Linked DNA regions of Homo sapiens. The protein of the gene in region 4 purifies or fractionates together with the protein of the main gene of each other region. This does not show direct contact. Each region holds a gene or a part of one and is shown on either strand. Other genes may lie near its edges.

Region 1 (6,056 bases), on a different chromosome or scaffold from region 4:
GTTGCCCAGGCTGGAGTGCAGTGGTGAGATCTCAGCTCATTGCAGCCTCCACCTCCTGGGTTCAAGTGATTCTCCTGCCTCAGCCTCCCAAGTAGCTGGGACTACAGGCACACACCACCACGCCCGATGAATTTTTGTATTTTTAGTAGAGATGGGTTTTCGCCATGTTGACCAGGCTGGTCTTGAACTCCTGACCTCAAGTGATCCTCCTGCCTTGGCCTCCCAAAGTGCTGGGATTACAGGTTCGAGCCACTGTGCCCGGCCATCCCACTTATAATACTTATAGTATATTTGTTTTATGTTTATGTAATTTTATATTTGTATAATGATTTTACATTTGGAATATTTATAATAATATATAATTTATGAGGTATTGTACTTGTTTTGAGGAAATTGATGAAGTCCTATAGATATGAAATTTGGGAGATTAAATGCCTCTGTTGACCTATACATTTTACTTCTCAATAAAATTTGAGGCATTTATAGAGCATATATGTATCTGCAGCTATTTTGAAAATTGTACCATTATCCTCCTGGGATTTCTTCTAATTTTTACTAACTTTGGCTTTTTCATTTTGAAATAGTGATCACATGGAAAATGTGTATGGCTATTTAATGAAGTATACCAACCTTGTCACTGGGTGGCAGTACAGGTAAGTGTGATTATTTGTGTCACATCAGTCTCTCCTAAGAGAGCAGGAATAGGGCCCAATAATTTTATATTTTGATATTACTTTAGACAGACATGGCTGGGAAACCTTTTAGAGAAGGATTTCCCACAGCTTCTAAAAGTTTGGTGACTTCTTCTTAGAGGGTGGGAAAAGTTGACATCTGTCCAAGTAGCAGCCTCTAAATGCCTCAGATGTTACTATTAAATGAGGATTAGAATCACTTGTTACCTGGCTTGGGCATTGTATACTTGCAGAAGTTAGGTTCTTAGGGGAAGAGAAATAGGGGTTTGGAGACAGCAAACACATTTGTGTTAGGTTCCCATCTTATGCCAGATTCACAGCTTCTCTGGGATCTTGAAGAGGTTAAGTAACCAGCCAAGGGTCACACAAGCTGTCAGGAAGCAGGAAAACCAGCTATCTCAAATACTTTATAGAATTGTAGTTGTGGGGCAGGCATATTAAACGGGATCAAATTGTCTACCAAGTTCTATTATAGAACAGGCTAACGTAGAATGCCAGACTTCTCCAAACCCAAACATGAATTTTTTTTTTTTTTTTGAGACGGAGTCTCGCTCTGTCACCCAGCTGGAGTGCAATGGCATGATCTCGGCTCACTGTAACCTCTGCCTCCGGGGTTCAAGTGATTCTTCTGTCTCAGCCTCCTGAGTAGCTGGAATTACAGGCATGCGCCACCATACCCAGCTAATTTTTGTATTTTTAATAGAGACGGGGTTTCACCATGTTGGTCAGGCTGGTCTCGAATTCCTGACTTCAGGTGATCTACCCGTCTTGGCCTCCCAAAGTGCAGGGATCACAGGCGTGAGCCACCACACCTGGCCACCCAACATGAATTTTAAAAGTTTAAAACTTTTTAGAGTTACTTTTTATTTTATATTAATTAATTAATTAATTATTTTTGAGACAGGGTCTTGCTCTGTTGCCCAGGCTGGAGTATAGTGGCATGATCTCAGCTCACTGTAACCTCCACCTCGGGCTGAAATCATCCTCCTGCCCCAGCCTCCTAAGTAGCTGGAGCTACAGGCATGCACCACCACACCCATCTAATTTCTGTATTTTTTTTTGTAAAGACAGGGTTTTGCCATGTTGGCCAGACTGGTCTCGAACTCCTGGATTCAAGCAATCTCAACTCATCCAGCCCTTTTTAGAGTTACTTTTTTTTTTTTTTTTTTTTTTTTGAGATGGAGTCTCACTCTGTCACCTAGGCTGCAGTGTAGTGGTGCAATCTCAGCTCACCGCAACCTCTGCCTCCAGGGTTCATGTGATTCTTCTGTCTCAGCCTCCCAAGTAGCTGGGATTACAGGTGCACGCCACCTCGCCCAGCTAGTTTTTTGTATTTTAGTAGAGACGGGGTTTCACCGTGTTGCCCAGCCTGGTCTCAAACTCCTAAGCTCAGGCAGTCCACCCGCCTTGGCCTCCCAAAGTGCTGGGATTACAGGTGTGTGCCACCGTGTCTGGCCTAGCGTTCCTTTTTTAAAAAGGGGCCAGATGAGGTGACTCACACCTGTAATCCAAGCACTTTGGGAGGCCGAGGCGGGAGGATCGCCTGAGTTCAGGAGTTTGAGATCAGTCTGGCCAACATGGCAAAACTCCATCTCTACGAAAAATACAAAAATTAGCTGGGCATGGTGGTGGGCGCCTGTAATCCCAGGTACTTGGGAGCTGAGGCATGAGAATCGCTTGAACCTGGGAGGCAGAGGTTGCAGTGAGTCAAGGTGGTGCCACTGCACTCCAGCCTGGGCAACAGAGCACGACTCCATCTCAAAAAAAAAAAAAATTATTACACTACTTAAATTGGAATTTCTGAAATGTATTTTTGAAAGTAGTTAATCTAGAACCAAATCAGAATTTTTTTTTCCAAAGTGTATTAGTATTTCATCAAATTCTTTTCCAGAGTGTATCAGCATTTCATCATTTAGTTTCAAGGTCCTTATGTTTCAGCATCTCCAATTGCAGCTTTTTCATTTTTAAACAGGAGAAGTAATCTTTAGTTTTGACTTATTTAATGATTCATTCACAAAATCTTTTTTACCCTGTTATTCTTGTTGTATATTTCACTAATTCTTAAATCACAATGCATATCTTGCCTAGTATATCTTGCCTTAACCTCAGAGCTCATATTTTGATTTATTTCCGGTGAATTTTAAAGAAAAATTTTCACTACCATTTGTCCTTTGGCAGTTTACCCTCTGTTAATGAATTCTGGGGAAAAATCTGTCTCTGAAAGGATATGGTATCTTTGCTTCCTTTTGTGCATTAACTGATAGGCCTCTTAATAAATGCCTCTCCCTCAGCTGAAGGGTTTATTATATCTTTTATTAAACTCATTCAATTTTTTTTTTTTTTTTTTTTTTTTTTTGAGACGGAGTTTTGCTCTTTTTGCCCAGGCTGGAGTGCAGTGGCTCGATCTTAGTGCAGTGCAACCGCTGCCTCCCAGATTCAAGCGATTTTCCTGCCTCAGCCTCCCGAGTAGCTGGGATTACAGGCATGCACCACCACACCTGGCTAATTTTGTATTTTTAGTAGAGATGGGGTTTCACCATGTTGGCCAGGCTGATCTCGAACTCCTGACCTCAGGTGATCCGCTCGCCTCTGCCTCCCAAAGTGCTGGGATTAGAGGCGTGAGCCACTGCGCCTGGCCTAACTCATTCGATTTTTAGTAATCTTCCCTGCTGGAAAATTCAGTGTAGTGTTTCCAGGTACCTCTTGAAATGCTTTTAAATTTTATTTTTAAGAGCAAAACCCTGAAATGTGTAAGTGATTGAAGTTTGCTTTGCTTTAGTTTGCTGAGGGAAAATGTTTACAAATTATGGATTTTAAAAAATCATTACAGGTTTTTTGTTTTAAACAATGAAGCTGGGCTGTTGGAGTACTTTGTGAATGAACAGTCTAGAAATCAGAAACCTAGAGGAACTTTGCAGCTTGCAGGAGCTGTAATATCACCCAGTGATGAGGATTCTCACACCTTCACTGTAAACGCTGCCAGTGGGGAACAATATAAACTCAGAGGTATGACCAAAATATGAGAATTAATACTGTGATTTTCCTCTTTTTTTGAGAAGTTGGTGTCTTACATGCTTTCATATGGGCTTTGGAAATAGAAACTGCTGTCATCAGTGATGTAAATACAATATTCTGAACCTTGGAACTGCTTTGAGAATTTATGAAATCTTTTGTAATAAGTAACTGTTTTCAAGTGGGACAATGTATGTTTGTTTAGGACTGGCCCCTCTGAAAAACGGTGTAGGTGAAACTCTGATTACTGAAAATCTAGAAACATAGACTTTAAATGATATTTTTTATGTATTTCACCCCTTTACTTGGTTTAGTTTACGTGCCCTTTTTGCAGTTTTCAGTAACTAATGTACATTATTGGGATTTATTATAATGTCATTCATTAAAATAACGTATAACTTCTGTTAAGATAAATTTAATTTGTGTAGAAGTTTTTTATTTAATGAATACACAAAGTATAATGGTAATCCTAAGTGAGCGTGCTCCTGCAGATCTGAAAGTATTGATTATACATCAAATAATTAAGGGGTTATTTCTTTAAATAAGAACCTATTTTTATGAGTTGCAACATGTCAGTCTCTCATCCTCACCTCACTGCATGTAATTTCTCCTTTTAATGAAGTAACTACATCCAGCTACTGTGTTCCCTAACAACGTTGGTGCTTTGGCCTCTTTCCTGCCTCCCTCCAGTCAGGGAAGTTTGCTCTAGTGAGAGTAAGACCAGTATCTGCTTTTCAGTGATCTGATCTTCATACTGTAGGCAATTAATTGTGTTCCAGAATAAATAAATATAAAATAATTTTTACATTCTTTTAACAGCTACAGATGCAAAAGAGCGACAGCACTGGGTTAGCAGACTTCAGATATGTACACAGCATCATACTGAAGCTATTGGAAAGGTATGTAGATTTATATACAATATTAATATACAAAAATGAGGAAGGAATATTTTTTATTTTTTGCCTTTTAAAATTGAGATACTATTCATATACCGTAAAATTCACCCTTTTAAAGTATATACGTATAATCCTGTGGTTTTTAGTATATTCACAAGGTGGTTCAACCATTGTAACTTTCTTTTTTTTTTTGAGACGGAGTCTCTCTCTGTGGCCCAGGCTAGAGTGCAGTGGCGCAATCTTGTCTCACTGCAACCTCTGCCTCCCGGGTTCAAGTGATTTTCCTGTCTCAGCCTCCCAAGTAGCTGGGACTACAGGCACACACCACCACACCCAGCTTATTTTTGTACTTTTAGTCAAGACAGGTTTCTTTACTAAAAAAAGTTGTTTCTTTACTAAAAATGTTGGCCAGGCTGGCCTCGAACTCCTGACCTCAAGTGATCCGCCCACCTTGGCTTCCCAAAGTGCTGGAATTACAGGTGTGAGCCACCGCACCTGGCCAAATTGCAGCTTTCTAATTTCAGAACATTGTCATCTCTCCCACAAAAAAAATAAAAAATCCGGAGCCACTAGCAGTCACTCCCTGTTCTCTCCTTCCCAATCCCCTAGCAAACTCTCTTTTCTATTCCATGGATTTGTCTATTCTGGGCATTTTATGTAAATTGAACCATATAATATGGGGTTTGTTGTATCTGGTGTCTTTCATTTAGCATGTTTTCAAGGTTCATCCGTGTTGTTGCATGTATCAGTACTTTATTCGTTTATTCCTTTTTTAAGACTGAGTAATATTTTATTGTATAGATATACTACTTTTTTAATCCATCAATTGGTGGACATTGGGTTATTTTCATTTTGTAGGCATTATGAATAATGCTGCCATGAACACTTTCAAGTTTTCATAATGAAAACATTCATTATTTTAATGAATAACATTATAAGTGTTCAAGTTTTTATGTGAACATATGATTTCATTTCTCTAGGGTCTGGGAGTAGAATTGCTGGATCACGTGATAGTTCTATGTTTAACATTTTGAGGAACTGCCAAACTGTTTTCCAAAGCGGCCACACTTTTTTACATTCCCATCAACAATATATGAGAGTTCTAATTTCTTTTTTTAATTTCTTTTTTTTTTTGAGATGGAGTCTCACTCTGTTACCCAGGCTGGAGTGCAGTGGCACGATATCAGCTCACTGCAACCACCGCCTCCCGAGTTTAAGCAATTCTCCTGCCACAGCCTCCCAAGTAGCTAGGACTACAGGCACCTGCCACCACGCCCGGCTAATTTTTTGTATTTTTGGTAGAGACGGGGTTTCGCCATGTTGGCCAGGCTGGTCTCGAACTCTTGAGCTCAGGCAATCCACCTGCCTCAGTCTCCCAAAGTGCTGGGATTACAGGTGTGAGCCACCACGCCCAGCGAGAGTTCTAATTTCTGTACATCCTTGCCGACACTTGTTA
Region 2 (5,674 bases), on a different chromosome or scaffold from region 4:
GATTGATATCAGAGTTTAAGTCACTTCCACCTTGGATGTAGTATGGAGTTTGAAGGGATTGAATCCAAATAGGCTAAATCCGTAAATTATTAATTGCTTCATACCCAGGATGAGAAAAAAAAATTCTGTTTTATGCATGGAGTAAAGAGTGAAGAGGACGTGAGGAATTATTGGATGGATCATGGGAGCTATGTGGTTTCTCACATTTAGAATTTAATCTGAAACCAGAGCCGTCTAATTTGGTCACTCTGCAGACTTTTGGTGGGATTTTATATATATATATATATATATATATATATATATATATATATATATATACATATTTTTTTTTTTTTTGAGACGGAGTTTCACTCTTGTCACCAAGGCTGGAGTGCAATGGCGTGATCTCAACTCACTGCAACCTCTGCCTCCCAGGTTCAAGTGATTCTCCTGCCTCAGCCTCCCGAGTAGCTGGGATTACAGGCATGTGCCACCACGCCCGGCTAATTTTTGTAATTTTAATAGAGACGAGGTTTCACCATGTTGGTCAGGCCAGTCTCAAACTCCTGACCTCAGGTGATTTGCCTGCCTAAGCCTCCCAAAGTGCTGGGATTACAGTCATGAGCCACCGTGCCAGGCCTATATATATATATATATATATATATTTTTTTTTTAAAGAAATGGAATATGTCTGAACATCCTGTGTAGAAACTAAGACAAACAGATATACTGTCGATCTAAGATCATTTTTGTTCATTCTTCTAGATGTTTGCAATGATGTTTGGAGGTAGTATTATTAAAACTCTACAGAGTCATGGTTTAGTAAATTTCTGTAAAATTATATTAATAATAAAACACTAATGTAATAAGCTGCTAAAAATCAGAGTTAACATGAAATGGTATGGCTGCATAAGAAGCAAGCTGAACTTATACTGCATCAAAAAAACAAACATAAAGTTATGGGTGGTGGCTCATGCCTGTAATTCCAGCACTTTGGGAGGCCGAGGCAGGAGGATCACTTAAGGCCAGGAATTGAAGACCAGCCTGGGCAACATAGCGAGACCTTGTCCCTACCAAAAAAAAAAAAAAAAAAAAAAAAAAAAATCGCTGGGCATGGTGGAGCACACCTGTAGTCCCAGCTACTTGAGAGGCTGAGGTGGGAGGATCACTTGAGCTCAGGAGTTACAGGTTGCAGTGAGCTAAAATTGAACCATTGCACTCCAGTCTGGGTGACAGATCAAGACCCTGTCTCAGAAAACAAAACCAAAACCAAAACCTAAAGAACTTATCAAAGCTACAAAGTTAAATATTATTTGGTGATATGTTTCTCAACATACTGTTGTTATTAAAAAGGATTTGCTTACTGGCACTATGTTGGAGAAATGATAACATAAAGTTTATTTGATCCATTGTGCAATGGGGATATGCAAATGTCAATCCATTTGGAACTGAGAAACCTAGATTCCAAAACTTAAGGAACTGGAGGGGAAGGATCAAATAGAAGGTGGCATTTGAATACTCGCTATGTGTTAGACACTTTCAGGCTTCCTTACATGTATTCAAGTTTAATCCTGACCACACCACGGTCTTGTAAATCAGGAAGGAAACTTGGAGGAGGAAGCTGCCCACAGTCAGTAAGTTTCTAAGTGGTGGGGAGAGTGCTTTGACCACAAATTTCCTCCTCTTTTCACTTTAGGATGCTACCTACATGTCGAAATTGTGAATTCATTCTCACTCGTACACTTCATTTCCTTAGAAAGCTAAGTTTAGGAAAGGTGCATAGAATCACTAAGCCAAGGAAATTGGCTTCTAGAATCACTCTAAACCAAAGCTAGAAGGGCTCACATTCTTCTAAAAAGAAACTTAGCTGTAGATGTAACATAACATACTGTATACATAAAGGTTGAAAATAAAAAACCTGTTTCTGCTTGAGGCAGGGAAAGGGGAAGAACGCAATAGAAAGAAACTGGATTTGCAGTCAGAAAACCTGGGTACAAGTGTCAGCTCTGCAGCTCTCTTAGATGTGTAACTCCAAGAAAGATTTTAACCTTCCTGAGCCTAAATTTTCCTCATCACTTACCATATCATGTAGAGAGAACAAAAAGGAGATAAAGGATGTTTTAAGCCATAAAAATATTATAAAATGTGATTTTTATTTAATAGTTCATTTCTCTCTGTATTAGCAAATCTATACATAAGCCATTAAAGATGTTTAAATCTACAGAGGTAATTCTTTAGCCTTTTTGGCATCCTGTGGGGTGGGCAGAGATGTCCTTTCTTCTTTCCAATTCTGTTCCAATAAGTTCATTTGAAGGGAAAGGGTTAGAAAGAGATCCTGGGTGAAACTATTATCCCATTCTCTGTCTCTTCTTTAAAAATTACTGGTTTCCTTCTCCTGGTCTGTTTTTAAAAAGCTCAGGTAGATCACAATAGATTTCCTCCAGGTAACAAAACTCTTTTCCTATTTCCCTGATGAATAAAGTTTTGAAGCATGTTAAAGTTCAAAATCAATAGCTACCCAGAGAAGACGAACAGTTATAGTACCAGGAGGTCAACAGGAGCCTAAAGATACCTGCAGGGGAGGGCATGACCACCCTATTCAACACCAACCTTAAAGGTTAGGAACATTGCAGCTTCCTGTAGCAACAAGACAGTTTTGTCTTTCATAAACTGAAAGTATTGGTATTTCCTGCCAAGTTAATCTTTTGGAGTAATAGTTCCCTTACATTTATTTTAGTAAATCAGTTTCAAAGAGGACAAGCCAAACATAGAGTGCAAAGTGATTCATATAAAGTCATCGAAACTTTCCACTCCTTCCAGCATCTTGAGTCTCCAGATTTCAGACCTGCCTTATAACCCCAAATTGTGAACATCAAGTCCTTTTATCATTCATCGTTAGGACAGAAAAGAAATCTAATGATTGGGAAGACTCAGGTTAGAAAGACTCAGGTTTGCTTGTTTCCAGAGGCAGCCTGGGTTTAAAAATCAAGAGAGAACATGGTTTCAACCAAGAAGGGAGAATTATAGTAATTATCCAGACATTCAATCTGGCTGCGAGTCTTCACTCTTTCCAAACCACCTCACCTCCTTCACACACGTGCTTCTGCCTCAAATACTATATCCCAGGCAAACAATTTTAACCAAAATTACTACAATAGCTGCTTATAGTGTTCAATTTCGTTACAAAGCCTCAGCAAAAACTGAGAATAATGTCTCAATCTTTAAGTTTTAAATATTCTCTGCATGGCTGGTTGGCTAAATGACTATAGAGCAAGTGAAAGAGTGTGGTGGCTTTTGGAGAGTGTCTGTTTGGAATTTTTGTCTCTCTGTGTTTGTATGTGCATGAAAACTAAAGTTGTTGCAAATGTGAAGATTTCAAGCATTTTTGAAAATTTATTAATATAAATAGGAAAAACTAGCTCAGTCAAAAGCTACAATTTAAATTTCCTGGACATCCAGAGTGTTTGGAAATGATCCTAGAGGAGCCATAACTAGGTAATAGGAATTAGGTACACAGATGGAGGTGGACATTGGTGGGAAGTCTCAGGTTACCCCCAAACTCCAAAGGAGGCCACTGTTCACCCCAAAGGATTGCTGACCTTTACTTCATACACTTCAGAAGCTCTTAACCTACCTGGAATAATGAGTGAAATGCTTGGAATATATGAAGGGTACCATGCAAATATCTATTTGTTAAAATATGGCTTTTGTTTAGGTTAATTGCAGTAAGAAAAGTAATACCCTCATTTCTATGACTCAGTCTTAGAATATGAGAATTTTCTCATGCAAAGGCTCCTCCCTGAGCAGTTAGATAGACATGAGTTTGATTTGTTTTATTGACAGAATAAGGGGAATGAACCTAACTTGGCCTTCTCCTCTTTTAAAATTATGAATCCGTAAATTGTGGGCCCAATGGAAAGTCATTAGCGGATGGTATAAGGAAGCTTAGCATGGCCAGGTGTCAACTGGCTGCCTTTTAGGCCACTATGGGCCATTGGACTATTTGAACCATGAGAGCATTTTTCGTTACCTTTCGTGATTGAATGGCACGTTGACATTTTCATTAGTCTGAAGGAGTTTCTTACTGCCACTACAAAAGATAGCAACAGCCAGGATCCAGGCAGTCATGCCCTAGAATATTCTCTCTCTGTTATTGTGTATGGAGGAAAAAGGAAGCATAGTACTGTCTGGTTGTGTGGCCTCTTCAACAAGGAAGAAAGTGATAAACAGCATTGGTAGGGAGGAGATGATTTGAGAACAGGTGGTGTGGCAAAAGCAATGGACAGACAAGAAGCAACGTATAGACAAGGTGATCATGGGGTCCATGGAACACAATCCTAAATTAGCATAACTATGGGAATGAGATGAAAGGTGCTGGTCTAACAGACTGAAGCTGTAGTCTGCTGAGCAACACTCCCAGGTCTCCACAGAGTAGCATTTTTATTGCAGTATGTCTTTCATGGAAAATGGACAAAACTTTAAATAAATCACAATTACTTATTGCTTAGTATTTTGAATAATAAATTCTTTAGTTTATCAGTACCTCACGGCCTTCAATGTGCATTCTTCAGATAGTTTCAGTTACATATACATTCTTTCTCCTGAACAATAAATTATTCTTAAAAAAAAGAAAAGGAAAAGATACATAATTTTAAAGCAAAGAAAAACAAAAGAACATATATTTTTGACATTTATCTTAAACTTATATGAAAACAACTCTATATGTTAGATGCTTAAATATAAATAATAAAGGACATTATGTTATTTACAATGTTACATAGTAAGTTGAGAGAGTAAAAACTGACATTAACTCAAAAAGACAGTAAATGATATAAGAAAACATCCAAGTAATATACAATATGTATTTACAAAAGAATATATAATAGAACTTGTGATATGTGGCCATTTCCTTCTGCCTACATTTCTCTTCAGTGTTTCATAGGTCTTCGCAGATAGAAATCTCTGGCTGGTGGAATGCAGCCAGTATTATTAATACAAGATAAGACCAGGCCTTCCTTATTTTCACCAGTGTGAGCCATGCGCCCTTTAACCCCAGGCCATAAAAAGGAATAGTTAGTGAGCAAGTTACCCTGGATAAACTTCACCTCTAACAAGACAGTCACACTGAAACAAGAAAGTGATAGCAGGTTTGGGACACATTCACCTACACAGAGGACCATTTTGTAGAAACTAGAATGCTGTCCAGGCACTCTTGGGGGCAAAAGTCACACTAGGCAGGAAGGGAAAGTAAGATAGAAAGTGAATCTTAGGTGAAACAAAAGGAGTTTTGCATGTATTTGCATGTATTATGCTCCACTGCATACACCTCAGTGGGATACGATTTTAGACCCGGGAAACAAAGTTGCTGTCAAACTCCTGGGCAATTTCTACTACCTTAAAACCTAAGATAGCTTTCCATATGCTGGGAACATAAGTTCACACTCCGATCGCCACTGCACTGTCGGAATTTATTAACAGAGGTGGTCAAGAGTGATGTGACAAGCATCACAGAGATACCCCTGTAAACACAAATCTAGTGGCCTTGGCAGGTGATGCTGAGCAGTCAGCTGGCCTTTTTTATGAAGGGTGCAAAGGATGTCCCAACTATAATAATATGCCACCTCTGTGAGTGATCAGAATCAAGTTAGAAATACAATTTCCTCTTGTCTTCAATTTTCATATATATTTGCAATTT
Region 3 (6,056 bases), on a different chromosome or scaffold from region 4:
CATATGTAGGTACCCACACACAACACTCACTGTCAGCATCCGCTCCAGCTTCACTGCATCAGCGGCAAACTTGCGGATCCCGTCAGAGAGCTTCTCCACAGCCATCTGGTCCTCGTTGTGCAACCAACGGAAAGACTTCTCATCCAGGTGGATTTTTTCCAGGTCACTGGCTTGGGCTGGGGGACAAGAACCAGCCTTCCATGCCTGCTCCATGTCCCTGCCCACCTTGGCCCCTTGGGCTCAGGGCCTGAACTGCTGCACCCAAGCATCTCCCACCAGGGCCAGGCCTTGGCCCCAGCAAGGCTCACGCTGGAAGTGGGGTTCAGCCCACAGAGCCTTGGCTGATGACTTGAGTGAGATGTGTTAGGAAAGCCAAGCCCTCCGTTGAGGTCTACTTCACCCTCATGTCTCCCAAGATGAGCTCGCCCCACAGGTGGGAGGGATCACCCACAGGGCAGCGTGGCACGGCAGTGCTGGCCTTGCCCGAGCAGGAGCCACAGCTGGGCAGTGGGGCCTCACCCGCCTTGGCTGAGAGCACAGGCACCAGCTTGGCGTTGTCCTGCAGCAGCTCTCCCAGGAGCTTGGGTGAGATGGTGAGGAAGTCACAGCCGGCCAGTGCTTTGATCTCGCCCGTGTTGCGGAAGGAGGCGCCCATGACAATGGTTTTGTAGCTAAACTTCTTGTAGTAGTTGTAGATTTTAGTGACACTCTTTACCCCTGGAAAGAGACCAAGCTGTGACCAGGAAGGCTTCGGCAGAGGTACCACCCCACCTGCCCTCCCAGTGCCTGCCGGCTGCACTACCTTGAGCCGCCACCCCTGCCTGCCCCGCGCCGACCTGTGCACCTCACTGCTTGTTGATGCGGCAGCTCCGTCTCGGGCTCTTCCTGCCTGAGGTGCTGCTGAGGCTGCTCCCCTTACCCCATTACCACAGAGGGACCCTCACCAGGGTCTTCCAGGGGCTCATAGGATTTCTTGTCGGTGTTTGCCACATGCCAATCAAGGATGCGCCCAACAAATGGGGAGATGAGGGTCACACCCGCCTCGGCACAGGCCACAGCCTGGGCGAAGGAGAAGAGTAACGTCATGTTGCAGTGGATGCCGTGCTGCTCCTCGAGCTCCCTGCGGGGCGGGGACAGGTGAGGGCGGGGCAGGTGAGGGCGGGGACAGGTGAGGGCGGGGGCGGGTGAGGGCGGGGACGGTGAGGGCGGGGATGGGTGAGGGCGGGGGCGGGTGAGGGCGGGGGCAGGTGAGGGCGGGGCAGGTGAGGGCGGGGCAGGTGAATGCAGGCCAGGTGCCCACCCAGAGCCACAGGCTGCCAAAGACGCTCACGGGCCTTAAACTAAAAAGGCAGGAACAGGCTCATGCCATTGTTAAGAACAAATCGGTAAGACTCGAGGGCTCTAAGTGGATAGTGGGTTATGGGTGACCAGGATTTTCTCCAACCCACATGACACAATAGACAAAGGCAAGGGAGGCCCTCTGGGTGCCCGTGCTCTTGCGCCAGGCCGTCACCTCATCCCAGAACTCACCAGGGCTCAGCTCCCAGGCTAGAACCACTGAGTCATCTCTGACCACATTCCAGTCCTCACCCTGTTCCACCCTACCCATTCCTGGGGCCACCCTGCAGCAGGCCCGTAGCACCCTGGTTTCTGCTGAGAGGAGCCCCTTGGCCTCACTAGGCCACTTGCCCAAATCCCAGTGCACTTTGGACATCCTGGGGTTGATCCCCAAGGACGGAGCAGTGCCCATACTTTGCCATGTGGCTGGGGCATGGGATGAGACAGCCAAGGCTCTGCTCAGGCACCTTCAGACACAAGTTCCCTCCCCAGGCGCCTCTGCCACATGGCCACACGGGGGTGTTCGAGGGGGACAGCAGATGGCACAGCTGAGTTGGGAAACAGCCTGCAGTTCCTCCAGCAGTCACCCAGAGACTCCACTCCTAGGCATATGCCCACGAGAAACAAAAACACATGTCCAGGACAAAACTTGCACATCTGTGTTCAGAGCAGCAGATGTGTTCATAGCAGCAGATGTGTTCAGAGCAGCAGCATACATCACAGCCCGAGAAATGGAAACCGACCACAGCAATATACATCACAGCTCAAGAGATGGAAACTGACCAGGTGTCCACCAACAGATGAATAACTGTGGCCTATCCATAAAATGGAGTATTTTCCAACATATAAAAACAAATGGTCCGGCCAGGTGCAGTGGCTCAAACCTGTGATCCCAACACTTTGGGAGGCCGAGGCGGGCGGATCACCTGAGGCTGGGAGTTTGAGATCAGCCTGACTAACATGAGAAACCCCATCTCTACTAAAAATATAAAATTAGGCGGGAGTGGTGGCGCCTGCCTGTAATCCCAGCTACTCCGGAGGCTGAGGCAGGAGAATCTCTTGAACCCCAGAGGTGGAGGTTGCAGTGAGCTGAGATAGCACCATTGCACTCCAGCATGGACGAGAATGAAACTCCGTCTCAAAAACAAAAAAAAACAAAAAAACACACAAATGAGGCCAGGCACAATGGCTCATGCCTATAATCCCAGCACTTTGGGAGGCCAAGATGGGTAGAGATCTCTTGAGCCCAGGGGTTCGAGACCAGCCTGGGGAACGTGGTGAAATTACCCAGGAGTGGTATGTGTGCTTGTCATCCCAGCCACTTGGGGGACTGAGGTGGAAAGATAGCTTGAGCCTGGAGTCAAGGCTGCAGTGAGCCAAGTTCGTGCCACTGCACTCCAGCCGTGGTGAAAAAGTGAGATGCTATCTCAGAGCAGGTCAGTGATGGCAGGTGGTAGAACATGCAGACACACAGATGTGGAAACAAAACACCTCTTCCTGATGCGAATTATTTGAGTATAGCATTGGCTGCTTCTGGGTGAGAACATCATAGAGGAGTTTTACTTTGTTTTATACATTTTCTGTCTCTTCCACTCTGAACGTACATATGTTTGGTTTGGTTTTTCTGAGACAGGGTCTCACTCTGTCACCCAGGCTGGAGTGCAGTGGTACGATCATAGCTACTGGAACCTCAACTTCCCAGGCTCAAGCGATCCTCCCGCCTCAGCCTCCTAAGTAGCTGGAATCACAGGGGTGGGCTAGTTTTTCTTTTCTTTTTTTTTTTTTTTTTTGAGATGGAGTCTCATTCTGTCACCCAGGCTGGAGTACAATGGTGCAATCTCGGCTCACTGCAACGTCCACCTCCCAGGTTGAAGTGATTCTCCTGCTTCAGCCTCCCATGTAGCTAGGATTACAGGCACCTGCCACCACGCCCAGCTAAATTTTTTGTAGTTTTGGTAGAGACGGGGTTCCACTATCTTGGCCAGCCTGGTCTCGAACTCCTGACCTCAGGTGATCTACCCACCTCAGGCTTCCAGAGTGCTAGGATTACAGGTATGAGCCACCGTGCCCGGCCTAAAAGTTTTCTTTTCTTTTTGAGACAGAGTCTTGCTCTGTCACCCAGACTGGAGTGCAGTGGTGTGATCTCAGCTAACTGCAACCTTCGCCTCCTGGGTTCAAGCAATTCTCCTGCCTCAGCCTCCTAAATGGGACTACAGGTGTGTGCCACCATGCCCGGCTAATTTTTTATATTTTTTAGTGGAGTCGGGGTTTCACCGTGTTAGCCAGGATGGTCTCGATCTCCTGACCTCGTGATCCCCACGCCTCGGCCTCCCAAAGTGCTGGGAGCCACCGTGCCCAGCCTAAAATTTCTTTATATTTTTGTAGAGACAAGGTTTCACTTTGTTGCCCAGGCTGGTCTGGAACTCCTGGGCTCAAGTGATCCTCCCATCTCAGCCTCCCAAATTGCTGGGATTACAGGCATGAGCCATCTTGCCCAGCCAGCATATATTTTATATAACAATAGTTTACTTTTTAAAAATCATGTAAACATAGGCTTGTGTTGATCAGGACAGAGGAAGGACAGAATCTGAATCTGCAGGTGCTAACTAGTGGCTTTTCTTCTCTGCTGAGTGGGTGGATGGTACTTCCTGGGAAATCCCTCATTTCTGATCACCAGCAAGTGAGGGAGCTGGCTCTGGAGCAGAGGGCAGATCTAGGCTGACATGAGCTGGTCAAGTCCAAGCTGTGGGCTGTGCTCCCCAGTCTGGCATTCCCCAGGGCTGAGAGAGTCAAACTTGCCTGATGCCATGTAGACCCTGCTCCAACAGAGGAAAAATCTCTGAGAGCTCCTTCCTTGTGGGGGACCACTTACTTTCCAGCCTGAATTCCTTCCCAGGTTGATGACAGCTTTATAAGAATTCGGTCCTTGCTGATCCCAGCTTCCTTGTAGAGCTCGATGAGCCGCCTGGCTCTGGCCACCATCGCATCTTTATCAAAGGAGAGCCTGTAGGAGCAAGAAGAACCCATCCCCTCAGATCACGCAGGTTGCCCACCACGCAGAGCAAGCTGGAGGCCGGGTGTCTGCCTGTCAGTTTTGAGCAGCACCACCGTGAGCACCAACCACTGCCCTCAACCTTCCCCTCACTGGAGGTTTGCAGAATGGCTCTGACAGCAACTCACACCCAGTCTCACAAACAGAGGTCCTCAGTGGGATCCATAGGCTATAATTTGTATTAAAAAACACTGGGCCAGGTGCCGTGGCTCACGCCTGTAATCCCAACACTTTGGGAGGCTGAGGCGGGAAGATCACAAGGTCAAGGGATCGAGACCATCCTGGCCAACATGGTGAAACCCTGTCGCTACTAAAAATACAAAAAAATTAGCTGGGTATGGTGGCGGGTGTCTGTAGTCCCAGCTACTTGGGAGGCTGAGGCAGGAGAATCGCTTGAACCCGGGAGGTGAAGGTTGCAGTGAGCTGAGATCACACCACTGCACTCTACACTGGCAACAGAGCGAGACTCTGTCTCAAAAAACAAACAAAACAAATCAAAACAAAAAACACTAGCAGCCGGGCACAGTGGCTCATGCCTGTGATCCCAGCACTTTGGGAGGCCGAGGCAGGTGGATCATGACGTCAGGAGTTCAAGACCAGCCTGGCCAAAATGGTCAAACCCCATCTCTATTAAAAATACAACAAATTAGCTGGGCATGGTGGCAGGTGCCTGTAATCTCAGCTACTTGGGAGGCTGAGGCAGAGAAACGCTTCAAGCCGGGAGACAGAGGTTGCAGTGAGCTGAGATTGCGCCACTGTACTCCAGCCTGGGTGACAGTGCGAGACTCCATCTCAAAAATAAATAAAAATAAAAATAAAAAACACTAGAGATCAGTTGCTAAACAAGGAGCTCTTGGTCATCACTACCAACTGTGGGAGAGCTCAAAATAAACCTCCTCTTGGGCCCTTGGGATGAAGACCATGGGTGGAGCAGCCCCTTGACCTCATGTTGGCATCCACGTGTGCAACTGTGGACACCTGACCAGCCCATCCAGTGCAGGAGCAAGCATCCTTACCTTGCGTCTACTTCTGTGGATACTCGGCCCGGAATCTTCTTTAGTATTTCTGCTCCAAACAACACAAAAAGTTTATCAATAGCATTTTTAATCTGGTCCTCTTGTGACCTGAAATTCAAAGGGAAAAAAAGCAGGTTAGAAGCTTCTGAGGTTCGCCAGGTGCGGTGGCTCACGCCTGTAATCCCAGCACTTTGGGAGGCCGAGGTGGGCGGATCATGAGGTCAGGAGATCAAGACCATCCTGGCTAACACGGTGAAACCCCGTCTCCACTAAAAATATTAAAAAATTAGCTGGGCATGGTGGCGGGTGCCTGTAGTCCTAGTTACTAGGGAGGCTGAGGCAGGAGAATGACGTGAACCTGGGAGGTGGAGCTTGCAGTGAGCAGAGATCGTGCCACTGCACTCCAGCCTGAGCGACAGAGCGAGACTCCATCTCAAGAAAAAAAAAAAGAAGCTTCTGAGGTTCAAGTGCACAAGACTCTACAAAATAAATTCTGTTATTTCTTTGCCAAATTTCCTTCCCTCCATCTTTTTTTTTCTCTTAAAACATTTTTTTATTGTGGCCAAATAATACATATAACATAAAATTTCCCATCTTATCCTTTTTTTTTTCCCCCAAGACAGGGTCTCCAGCTAAGGCTGGAAGCACAG
Region 4 (5,781 bases):
GAAACAAATATATTTATTATTTAGAAACAGTGAAGGTGAAAGTGGCTGTCCTAGGTAGTGTGACTCAGAGTTGGACCGTTTCATTTCTAAAAAATCTTAGTACTATCTGATTTATTATCTTGATGAAAATAAGAATTTAAAAATCAAAGATATGCTTAAAAAAACCACAAGTCACAAATATGCACGTTTCTGTCTTTTAGGAGCCATAAAAAGTGGGAGGAAAGAACAACTAAATTATTTGGAGAACCTAAGAAAGCTTTTTTTCTTTTTTGAAATGGAGTTTTGCTCTTGTCGCCCAGGCTGGAGTGCAACGGCGCCATCTCGGCTCACTGCAACCTCTGCCTTCTGGGTTCAAGTGATTCTCCTGCCTCAGCCTCCCAAGTAGCTGGGATTACAGGCGTACACCACCGTGCCTGGCTAATTTTTTGTGTTTAGTAGAGACAGGGTTTCACCATGTTGGTCAGGCTGGTCTGGGACTCCTGACCTCAGGTGAGCCACCCGCCTTGGTCCCCCAAGGTGCTGGGATTACAGGGGTGAGCCATCGCGCCCGGCTGAACCTAAGAAAGCTTTTAAGTGTTGAAGGACAAGTAAAAGAGGAGAGGGAAAAAACCCTTTGGGTTGGATGCAAGAAGAAGTATCTTAGCTAATATAACCAGTTCAGTGGGACTGGAATAGGGATGAGTTAGGGGACTTAGGGAGGCAGGTGGGAAAGAAGGTCAGAGGGTAGAGAATGTCCAAAAATGTCACATGCTCTGTCAGAGAGTTTGAAATTTATCTCAGAGGCAAGAGAGAGCTATCGGATTAAACGGTTTTAAAAATTACTGGCTGTTTGCTTTGGGACAGACCGTAAGTTGACAATGAGGCCTTTCAAAGGGAAAGCTGATAGGCAGAAGACATTTCAGAGGTAGAACTCACAGCTCTTGGTGACTAATAGCTAAAATAATTTAAGGATGAGGAGAAATAATGGTCAAAAGTGACTGTCTGTAAATCTAAAACGACTATTAAATGTTAAAAAACAAAACACAACAAAATAACACCAAAACTGGCTCTGAGGATTCCAGCGTGAACAACTGGGATCACAGACACGCTGTACTGTCCAGGGAGGGAGCAGGGCGCAGAGGAAGAAAAAGGACTAACTGTAAAGCCTGAAAGGCTTCCATCCAGGCCCCGGCCTGCACCTACTCAGTGCGTGATCTTCAGGGATGAAGGGGAATAATTTCATCACCATCCAGGCCCCGGCCGGCACCTACTCAGTGCGTGATCTTCAGGGATGAAGGGGAATAATTTCATCACCATCCAGGCCCCGGCCGGCACCTACTCAGTGCGTGATCTTCAGGGATGAAGGGGAATAATTATTTCATCACCATCCAGGCCCCTGCCTGCACCTACTCAGTGTGTGATCTTCAGGGATGAAGGGGAATAATTTCATCACCATCCAGGCCCCGGCCTGCACCTACTCAGTGCGTGATCTTCAGGGATGAAGGGGAATAATTTCATCACCATCCAGGCCCCTGCCTGCCACTTACTCAGTGTATGGTATTCAAGGGTGAGGGCCAATGACTTACTCATTCTTAGCCTCGGTTTCCTCATTTGCAAAGGCTGATGCTATCAACCTTGCAGGTTATATTAAGAATCAGAGAATGTGGCTGGGCGCGGTGGCTCACGCCTGTAATCCCAACACTTTGGGAGGCCGAGGCAGGCGGATCACGAGGTCAGGAGATCGAGACCATCCTGGCTAACACGGTGAAACCCCGTCTCTACTAAAAATACAAAAAAATTAGCCAGGTGTGGTGGTGGGCGCCTGTAGTCCCAGCTACTCGGGAGGCTGAGGCTGAGGCAGGAGAATGGTGTGAACCCGGGAGGCGGAGCTTGCCGTGAGCCGAGATCACGCCACTGCACTCCAGCCTGGGCGACAGAGCGAGACTCCGTCTAAAAAAAAAAAAAAAAAATCAGAGAATGTATATGAAGCACTTAAGGTTGGATGCGGTGGCTCACATCTGTAATCCCAGCACTTTGGGAGGCTGAGGCAGGTGGATCACCTGAGGTCAAGAGTTCGAGACCAGCCTAGCCAAAATGGTGAAACCCTGTCTCTACTAAAAATACAAAAATTAGCTGGACATGGTGGCGGGTGCCTGTAATCCCAGCTACTCGGGAATCCCAGCTACTCTCCTGAGGCAGGAGAATCACTTGAACCTGGGAGGCGGAGGCTGCAGTGAGCTGAGATCACACCACTGCACTCTAGCCTGGGCAACAGAGTGAGGCTCCATCTCAAAAAATAAATAAATAAATAAAAATAAAGCACTTAAGAACGTACCGATATAGTAGCATTTATTTCTTTTTATTTTTATTTATTTACATATTTTTAGTATAAATAGAGAGTTCATCTGGGCCAAGCTTGAAGACTGCAGCCCGGGAACATAGATTCAGGTTTCCCAGAATCTACACTCCCAAGTAGCCTTTATGTAATATTACTGGAAGAAGAATGGATTTGAGGTAAGATAAGTTATGGACACGCTGAGTCTGATATGTGGTAGGTTTCCTAGGTGAAGAGGTTCTCAGGATATAACATCGGTCTGGACAGAGAAAGTGCTACATGTAAGAGAAAAAGTTCATAAGCTGGACTTCACCAAAATAAAAAATTCCTCATCTTCAAAAACTCAATTAATGGCTGGGAAAAATACTTGAATTTGCAAGTGACGAAGGAATGATGAAAAACTACAGTACAGAGTCAAGGTAAGAGTCACGTAAGGCTCTGTCGTACTCTCTTCGGTTGTGCATATTTGGAATTTTCATCATGAAATATTAAAAATTATTAAAGAATGGACAAAAGACTTGAACATAAAATTCACAAAAATAAGTAAATGGCTAATAAGCACATGAGAAGGTGCTCAATATCATTAGTCATCAGGGAAATAAAAATTAAACCTCTGTGGGGCCGAGCTGGAAGGATCACTGGAGGCCAGCCTGGGCAACACAGTGAGAATCTGTCTCTACAAACATAAAAAACATCAGCTGGGCATAGTGCTGCAGCCCTAGCTATGTGGTGGCTGAGGCAGAAGGATCGCTTGATTGCACCAATGAAACCATTTCGCATGTGCTAGAATAGCTAAAAAACCCACAAAAAGCAAAATAAGTGTTGGTGAGAATGTAGACCTACTGGACCTCTCGTGGACAAACGATGGTCCGATCACTTTCGATGACTGTTTGACACTTTCTTATACAGTAAAAGCAGTTCTACTCCTAGGTATTTACTCAAGAGAAATGAAACATCTATCTACAAGAAGATTTACACTAGAATGTTCATGGCAGTCTTCCTTATAATAGATTAAAAAATCTAGAAATAAACCAAATGTCCACCATTATAAGAATGAATGAGCAAATTGTTATATTCATAAAATTGAGTATCAGTCAGCAATTAAAAAAAAAAGAGCTGTGATATGCAATTACATGGTGGAATCTCAAAACCATGTTGAGTAGGCCGGGCGCGGTGGCTCACACCTGTAATCCCAGCCCTTTGGGAGGCCAAGGTGGGTGGATCACAAGGTCAGGAGATCGAGACCATCCTGGCTAACACGGTGAAACCCGTCTCTACTAAAAATACAAAAAATTAGCCGGGCGAGGTGGCAGGTGCCTGTAGTCCCAGCTACTCGGTAGGCTGAGGCAGGAGAATGGCGTGAACCCGGGAGGCGGAGCTTGCAGTGAGCAGAGATTGTACCACTGCACTCCAGCCTGGGTGACAGAGCGAGACTCCGTCTCAAAAAAAAACAAAAAACAAAAAACAAAAAAAGCCATGGTGAGTAAAAGCAGCCAGGCACAAAAGGAAAGAAAATACTGAATGACTCCATTTGTATGAAGTCCAAGAACGAACTCACCTACAGTGACAGAAGTCAGAATAGCAGCTGATCTGGGAGATGAAGGTGCCAACTCACTGGAGATGGGCATGAGGGAACTTCCTGGGAAAATGGTCTGTATTCTGAGTAGTGGTTGTATGAGTAAACACAACCGTCAAAACACATTTAAATTCTACCTAAATTATGCCTCATCAACAACAACCACCTGTCTGAGCTGAGGAAGGAGTTAAAAACTGGAAGTGAGGAGGCTGGAGCCAGGATGATGGTTACGTTCAGGGCAGAGGTAAGGAGAGGTCGCAGGTAAGCTCTCATCAGAGTGGAGGAAGAATGCAGAATGGGAAAAACAGCAAAGTAGGGCTATGGGTATAAAAACACTTTGGGATGAGACACAGAAAGAGGTGCCCGTGTCTGAGGAGAAACTGTCAGGAAGATGAAAATGGTAGGATGGCCAGGCGCAGTGGCTCACGCCTATAATCCCAGCCCTTTGGGAGGCCGAGGAGGGTGGATCACCTGAGGTCAGGAGTTCAAGAGACAGGGTTTCACCGTGTTAGCCAGGATGGTCTCGATCTCCTGACCTTGTGATCCGCCCGCCTCGGCCTCCCAAAGGGCTGGGGTTACAGGTGTGAGCCACCGCACCCGGCCTACTCAACCAGCCTGACCAACATGGTGAAACCCCATCTCTACTAAAAATACAAAAATTAGCCAGGTGTGGTGGTGCGTGCCTGTAATCCCAGCTACCAGCTACTCAGGAGGCTGAGGCAAGAGAACTGCTTGAACCTGGGAGGCAGAGGTTGCAGTGACCTGAGATCGCGCCACTGCACTCCAGCCTGGGCAAGAGAGTGAGACTCCCAACTCAAAAAAAAGAAAAATGGCAGGATCGCTAACAGCAGAGGAGAAGAGAGCTCAGGGAGCAGGAGTTCATCAATGGTTCACATCTATAATCCCAGCACTTTGGGAGGCCAAGATGGATCGAATGATTGAGCCCAGGAAGTTTGAAACCAGCCTGGGCAACATGGTGAAACCCCATCTCTAGAAAAAATACAAAAATTAGCCAGGCATGGTGGCGCACGCCTATGGTTCCAGCTACTAGGGAGGCTGAGGTGGGAGGATCACTGGAACATAGGAGGCGGAGGTTGCAGTGAGCTGAGATCATGCCACTGCACTCCAGCCTCGGTGACAGAGAGAGACCCCGTCTTAAAAAAAAAAAAATGGGCCCAGGCGTGGTGGCTCACGCCTGTAATCCCAGCACTTTGGGAGGCCAAGGCAGACGGATCGCCTGAAGTTAGGAGTTCAAGACCATCCTGGCCAACATGGTGAAGCCCCGTCTCTACTAAAAATACAAAAATTAGCCAGGCGTGGTGGCACGTGCCTGTAATCCCAGCTACTTGGGAGGCTGAGGCAGGAGAATCGCTTGATCCCGGGAGGTGGAGGTTGCAGTGAGCCAAGATTATGCCACTGCACTCCAGCCTAGTTGACAGAGCAAGAATCCGTCTCAAAAAATAAATAAAATAAAATGGGCCAGGCACAGTGGCTCACACCTGTAATCCCAGCACTTTAGGAGGATGAGGTGGGTAGATCACTTGAGGCTAGGAGTTTGAGACCAGCCTGGCCAACCTGGCAAAACCCTGTCTCTACTAAAAATACAAAAATTAGCCAGCATGGTGGCAAGTGCCTGTAGTTCCAGCTCCTTGGGAGGCCGAGGCAGAAGAATCGCTTGACCCTGGGAGGCGAAGGTTGCAGTGAGGCAAGATTGCACCATTGCACTCCACCCTGGGCGACAGAGCTAGACTCCATCTCAAAAAATTTAATTCAGTAATTAATTTAATTAAATTAAGAGCGAGGAGGAAGAGTCTGGCAAATTTGTCAGCTGAGAGGATGACAGATTCTACTTTCCTTCAGGATAAAATGTATAAAGACTGTATTTTCTATA

The links.
Region 1: the proteins of GLOD4 (region 4) and OSBPL11 purify together in Homo sapiens (co-immunoprecipitation; one large-scale study listed by IntAct). This does not show direct contact.
Region 2: the proteins of GLOD4 (region 4) and NRG1 purify together in Homo sapiens (affinity purification with mass spectrometry; one large-scale study listed by BioGRID and IntAct). This does not show direct contact.
Region 3: the proteins of GLOD4 (region 4) and TALDO1 fractionate together in Homo sapiens (co-fractionation; one large-scale study listed by BioGRID). This does not show direct contact.

What each region holds. Positions count from the first base shown.
Region 1 is NC_000003.12:125,577,507-125,583,562, reverse strand, and holds part of OSBPL11 (oxysterol-binding protein-related protein 11), read left to right. Parts: intron 1-584; coding exon 585-653; intron 654-3,522; coding exon 3,523-3,698; intron 3,699-4,523; coding exon 4,524-4,603; intron 4,604-6,056. UniProt on the Homo sapiens protein: Plays a role in regulating ADIPOQ and FABP4 levels in differentiating adipocytes and is also involved in regulation of adipocyte triglyceride storage. Weakly binds 25-hydroxycholesterol. Interacts with OSBPL9 to function as lipid transfer proteins.
Region 2 is NC_000008.11:32,766,686-32,772,359, reverse strand, and holds part of NRG1 (pro-neuregulin-1, membrane-bound isoform isoform HRG-alpha proprotein), read right to left. Parts: 3' UTR 1-5,674. UniProt on the Homo sapiens protein: Direct ligand for ERBB3 and ERBB4 tyrosine kinase receptors. Concomitantly recruits ERBB1 and ERBB2 coreceptors, resulting in ligand-stimulated tyrosine phosphorylation and activation of the ERBB receptors.
Region 3 is NC_000011.10:758,408-764,463, reverse strand, and holds part of TALDO1 (transaldolase), read right to left. Parts: intron 5,515-6,056; coding exon 5,407-5,514; intron 4,343-5,406; coding exon 4,211-4,342; intron 1,121-4,210; coding exon 945-1,120; intron 718-944; coding exon 520-717; intron 177-519; coding exon 31-176; intron 1-30. UniProt on the Homo sapiens protein: Catalyzes the rate-limiting step of the non-oxidative phase in the pentose phosphate pathway. Catalyzes the reversible conversion of sedheptulose-7-phosphate and D-glyceraldehyde 3-phosphate into erythrose-4-phosphate and beta-D-fructose 6-phosphate.
Region 4 is NC_000017.11:761,251-767,031, forward strand, and holds part of GLOD4 (glyoxalase domain-containing protein 4), read right to left. Parts: intron 2,590-5,781; coding exon of another isoform or gene 2,440-2,589; exon of another isoform or gene 2,312-2,439; intron 1-2,311.